Linked DNA regions of Homo sapiens: region 2 is linked to region 1. The links come from fine-mapping of genetic effects on gene expression. A gene starts in region 1. The other region holds a variant in brackets. All regions are shown on one strand. Distances are from middle to middle.

Region 1 (2,907 bases):
CATTGGTGTGAATCAGATGCACCACATCTTCTTTTAGGAGTAGGTTTGGTTCCCTCCCTCTTTGCTACACATATAACAAACTCAGGTGGGGCCTGGTTTTCATTTTCTTCCATAAAGGGAAAATTAAGGTCCAGAAAGTGAAAAGAACTGCCCAGAGTCCTATAGGCCAGTGGTGCACCTGCGCACGTGGCCTGCACTCCAGCAGCAGGAGAGGAGGCAGCACATGGGGCGTTCGTTCTTGCCTGGGGGCTCCCCACGGCTCACTCCCCAATCTCAGCATCCTCTCCTCCCCTGTCAGCTCAGGGTCCTGCCAGTCATTCCCTGCCTCCTGGGGCACCAGGCTTTCCAGTCCCTAGTTCTACCCCCTGGGGATCAACTAATCAGCTTGTTTCTCCTCCAATAAGTATCCGTGTTCTTTAGGTGAAAAGCCCCAACCTACTGCAGGTTTTCAGGGTGCACCTTCAGTAGGCATTTGCCATTCCTGTTTACACTTTACACCAAGGCATTTGCACGGCGGGTAATGGGTGGGGTTGGGCTTTGAGTAGGACTGCCCGATCCCCCAGCCAGAGCTTCCAGCATGGCATTTGGGTTCCATTTGACCTGGGCCTAGCTCAGCCCTGAGGCTCATCTCACAAGGTTCTCGGCCCTGTTATTTCTCCCCGTGGGCTTGGCTTCTTCCCTTCGCACTCTATTCAGCTCCTGTCTGAGCTCCTGGAGGGCTGGCTGCAGCTGGGCTTCTCTGGTTCCTAGAAGCCTGGTCAAACCCCGTACTGGGAGCTGGCAAGGCTGCCTCGGGAGGTGCACTGTGGGAGGTGTGCGAGGTACTGCGTAAGGTACTACAGGAGCAGGAAAAGGCTGGAGGGGCTTTCTCCCCCTCTGTGGCTGTCCCACCCTCTTCACCAGCCTCCTCCCAACCAGGGTAGGGCAAACCGATGCTTATTCTGGGCTCTGGGCCTCAGCCAGGGCACACAGGCAGAGTTGGTCTTGTGAACTCCTGTGGTCAGGCCTGGGAGGGTGCTGAGACCCAGGACTGGGTGGGACCCACCAGCTCCTCCTGCCCCTCCTATGCCCCAGCCTGGGAGCCCGTGGTCTGTGGAGGCCCCTGATCAGTCCACTCCTCCACATTTCTTGTTCAGGTTCTACCTGCAGAAGGTGGTCCCTCAAGCTCCACCCTGTGCCCTGCTCCCCACTCTCGTTGGCTTCAAGAAAGGGTTAAAGATCAGCCATTAGGTCTTAAGGGGGCACAGGTTCCTAGTCCTGGACCATCAGTCCCAGTGGGGATAGAGGGAGCTCTCAGTTACAGTCGGGGAGGGAATGTACCCCCGGGTCTCTGCTTTCCGGCTCGCCAAGGGGGTTTAGAGTTAAGGGAAGCAAGGGGAGTCCAGCTTTTCATTGGCTACAAAATCTTGTGGAATACAACCTCCCCCACCCCGGTGTCCATGCACACGGATTGTCTTTCTTCTCCTGGGGCAATGTCCCCTCTCGGAGCCACCTTTCCCCAGGACTGGAGGCTCAGCTGGTACTCCTGGGCTCACTCTGGTGCCTCCCCTTGGTACTGTTTTAGCCATCAGACTGGATCCCTCTTAGCTCAGCTGTCCCCAAGCTTTCTTCCTCTCCATACCATTGTCCCCCCTCACCTGAGTCCCTCCTTGAGAGCCATATGGGGAAGCAGGTAGGATGGCCTGGAGCAAACTTTCCCAGCTTAGAGCTGGGGAAGAAATGGCCTGCTCCTGGAGATCTGGAACAAGCAGCTCCTCCCCCTTTACCTGAGGAGCTGCACCCACAGGAGCAGTCAGGATGGACTGCCTGCGAGGGACCTGCCGGGGATGCAACCTTTTGGGGGAAGCTGGCCCCAAGGTGGAGTGGGGCTGGCAACCCTTTTGGGGCCAATCACCTGGAAGAGGGTGGGTCTGAGTAGGCCAGTTCTGGTTGGCTGGAGGCTCTGTCATTTTGTACAGACTCCTCTTCCCTCCCCAGGGGAAGTGTCTTTGGTTCTTGGGAACAGCTGGCAATCAAGGTATGGTGTTTGCCACGCAGGAAAAGCCGTTCTGCACAGAGCCTCAGCCAGATCTGAAGGGCACTCGGCACCTGTGACCTTGGACAGTTCACCTAGTGGAGCCCTTTACCTTCTCAGTAGAATGTACACCAGTACATACACCAGTCACCCAGGAGAGAGAACCATGTAAATTCGTGGATGTTGAACCGTTGTGATTTACTCTGGGCAGTGCTTTTTAAAGTTCCAGTTGTGACCTATCTGAAGGCCGTGTAATGAGTTTAGTGGGTCGTGACCAAGATTTTTAAAATACGAACAGGAATACAATGGAAAATATTCTATATTGTACGTAAGGGTAGGTTTTGTTTCATGAAATGTTTGTTTCAGTTGATAGATATTGAAATGTGTATACAAGTTTGGGAAATATTTCTTTAAATTGTGGATCATGATGGAAATAGGTCTGTGAAATTCAGTGTGAAGTGTAAACAACAGGAATAGCAAATGCCTATTGCAGGTGCACCCTGCAAACTTGCAGCAGGTTGGAGCTTTTCATCTAAAGAAGATGGATACTTATTGGTGTGAATCAAATTCACCACATCTTCTTTTAGGAGTAGGTTTGGTTCCCTCCCTCTTTGCTACACACAACAAACTCAGGTGGGGCCTGGTTTTCATTTTCTTCCATAAAGGGAAAATTAAGGTCCAGAAAGTGAAAAGAACTGCCCAGAGTCCTATAGGCCAGTGGTGCACCTGCGCACGTGGCCTGCACTCCAGCAGCAGGAGAGGCGGCAGCACATGGGGCGTTCGTTCTTGCCTGGGGGCTCCCCAGGGCTCACTCCCCAATCTCAGCATCCTCCTCCTCCCGTCAGCTCAGGGTCCTGCCAGCCATTCCCTGCCTCCTGGGACAGGCTTTCCAG
Region 2 (2,907 bases), 63 kb after region 1:
ATTTAAGTCACTTCTCCCCTCCTAACTGCAATGGGCCACTTTGAATGATGTGCTGAATATAACTGGCTTGGATAGTGATCTTATTACAGGTCTCTGCTGCCCACAGGGCCTGAGACCAGCAGCTGGAGAAACGCTGATGGTTCTGCCCTCCCAGGAGCCGCCAAGTCTACGAAACACTAGGCCTTTGTCCCCAGTGTCAGGGAAATCCATTTGCTGTGGATTACAGCTGTGACAGAGGTTCCGGGAAAGCAGAGGGGAAGGATACTGAAAACCTCTCTCCAAATCTAGCCTAAAGCCCTGGGGTAAGGCAGGGTGAGGTTTTTCCTAATGGAATCAGAGCTGGGCAGGAAATGAGAAGTCTCGTCAGCCCCATCGTGGCTGCTGGTATTATCATGAGGCGGCTTGGTATGGAGAGTCTGAAGAGATGGGTGAACATATTCCTTTGCTGTGGCTCTGCTTCTCCTTTCTGGATGCCCCTCCGCCAGAGGCATAAGGCAGTAATAACAGAAGATTCAGACTCCCTAGACTTAGGGGACCTGGGGGAGGCCTCCTTACACCTCTCGGCTGCTGCATGAACATAAGTGTCCTGATTTGTTCCAGTCTGAAGCCACTGACTCACTGGGAGCAGTCCAAATGGATGCAGCTCAAACCATCTCAAAAGGTCCCTCCCTCTCCCCTGTCCTCTGCATGTTGCCACCTTTAGTGTCTCTAGAAACCAAAGTAAGTAAATGAAGGCCAACAAAAATAGAAGTGAAGGATGAGGAATTAAAGCTGGTCATATAGTCCTAGCAATCCAAACAGAATGATTTCATTGTGATGCAAAACACTATAAATTTAAATGAGTAAACTTTCTGAAACCTTACTGTTTTCTTCCTAATTTATAAAAGGCAGGTTATATCAAGTATTTCTATAACAAGGTGGTGCTGGTTGGTTGAAGAATATGAGGAGGAAAAAGAAGGATTTGCTGTCTTTTGGAAGGGATGTACAGTGAAAGCCACACTGTGCAGATGCTGAATGCTTGGGGACGGGATGGATGAGTTTGTCTAGACTTGGGCAGCCCTGGACTCACTGCTGTAAGGCAGAGCAAAATATATTCTGTGTCTTCTATGGGCCCCTAATCAAATATAAGCAGTGTCCTTATAAAAGAACGCCATGTGAAAACAGGCACACACGGGGAGAAGCCAGCCACGTGAAGATGGAGGCAGAGATTGGAGCTATGCTGCCACCAGCCAAAGAACACCTGCAGCCACCAGAAGCTAGGAAGAGGCGAGGAAGGACTCAGGGGGAGCATGGCCCTGCCGACACCTGGATTTCATACTTCCAG[C/T]CTCCAGAACGGTAACATGATACATTTGTGTTGTTTTAAGCCACCCAGTTTGTGGTAATTTGTTAAGGCGGCCTTAGGGAACTATTATGCTGCCTAATACTCAACCTGACCAGCCTAAAAAGGTCAACTGAAACTAATGGTAAAAAAGGGTGCAAAGGCATTAAAAACAGCCTCGTTAATATCATGGCTTTGTATGCTCCAAGGCAAGGCTTCTCAAAAATGTGGTCCCTTGGCAACTCTCCAAAAATGCAAATTTTCAGGCACCACTTCAGACCTACGGAATCAGAAATTCTGGGAGCAGGGCTCAGCAGCCTGTGTTCTCACAGCCTTCTGGGAGATTCTGATGCTGATGAAGCATGAGAGCCACTGCTCTAAGGGGCCCCACTATCCATTTGAATATGAGATTTAAAAGGGGCAGTCATCATTGATGCCATAAGATGGTCATAATGAAGTCCCTGCAAAAAGGGGCTAGAATTTGAGATGGGAAGAGTTACCAAACATAGTTTCTTCCCTGCTGAAACCTCAAAATACCTCCACGTGGAAAGAAAATGTTGGCAGCACTCTGTTTAGGGATCTTCCTGTTTCTCTCCAGCTTCATTGCCTACCACGTGCTCCCACACAGCTGATTCCAGAATTAGTCATATGCTGTCTCACCCCTTGCCCAGACCTTTCCCTCTGCCTGGGCCACTCCCCAGGCCCCTCACTCTCCATCTCCCTGGCCGGAGCGCATTCACCCTTTGCAGTTCAGCTATAACGTCTGTTCCTCTTAGGGACTTCCTTTTTGTACCCCAGCCTAGATTTGGTGCCTTCTTCTGAACTTTAATAGCATAGCAGGACAGCTGATTTTATTTACTAGGTAGTGATTCCATTATTTTTAGATTCCTAATGCCTAACATGGTGCCGAGCCAGCAACAGTAAGATTTTGTTAAATGAGGAATGAATAAAGCTTGAAGCTCTTTGGGAAGCTCTTCACCTCCTGATGAGGAACCCAAGGTTAAAATACCGAAACACACTGTGCAAATACCATGTTATCTGAGAAGGGACCTTTGAAACTATTAGTAGCCATTAGCACCTTTACTCAAATTTGTGGGTCCAGATGGCTACTCTCAACAGGGCCTAGGACATGTAAATTTTGATTTGGGAATGGAGAGGGGAAATGAAAGATGAGTGGTGTTGAAGTGATGGGTGTGGGACTGTGGTCACTGCAAAAAGCAGATGTAGAAGGTCCTGGCCAAAAGGCTGGGACTAGACCCAGTCACACATTGACTAGGTGGGAGCTAGGCAGCAGCATTATGTGGAGATCATAATACCTTACCCCGACCTCCCAGAGCTTCCGGAAAATGAAACAACATAAATAGGAGAAAGCATTTCGGAAACAAAAATCACACAAAGGCAAAGTATCATGAGAGAGAGTTTAGAAAAGGGGAGAGACGTTCTACTCCATAAAAATGAGCAAACATTGCCAGGGCAGGGTTTACATACAGGAATGCAACCCTGGCCATGTTACGTAACCTTTCTGCGCCTCATTTGCCTCTCTGTAAAATGGACAAGAGTGCAGACTTCATTGGTTTTAAATAATAGGT

Evidence for each region. PIP is the estimated chance that this variant, and not a neighbour inherited with it, causes the effect.
Region 2: its variant is fine-mapped to the expression of A3GALT2 in whole blood (INTERVAL, PIP 0.96).

What each region holds. Positions count from the first base shown.
Region 1 is chr1:33,319,439-33,322,345 of GRCh38, forward strand. It overlaps A3GALT2 (alpha 1,3-galactosyltransferase 2), which reads right to left and starts at 1,660. Exons shown (of 5, transcript NM_001080438.1): 1 at 1,638-1,660. The coding sequence starts at 1,660.
Region 2 is chr1:33,382,624-33,385,530 of GRCh38, forward strand. The region is part of intron 1 of PHC2 (polyhomeotic homolog 2); the gene reads right to left. Among named protein-coding and RNA genes, the nearest start is that of PHC2-AS1, 34 kb to the left of the region's middle. The variant C/T (reference allele first, on the strand shown) is at 1,325.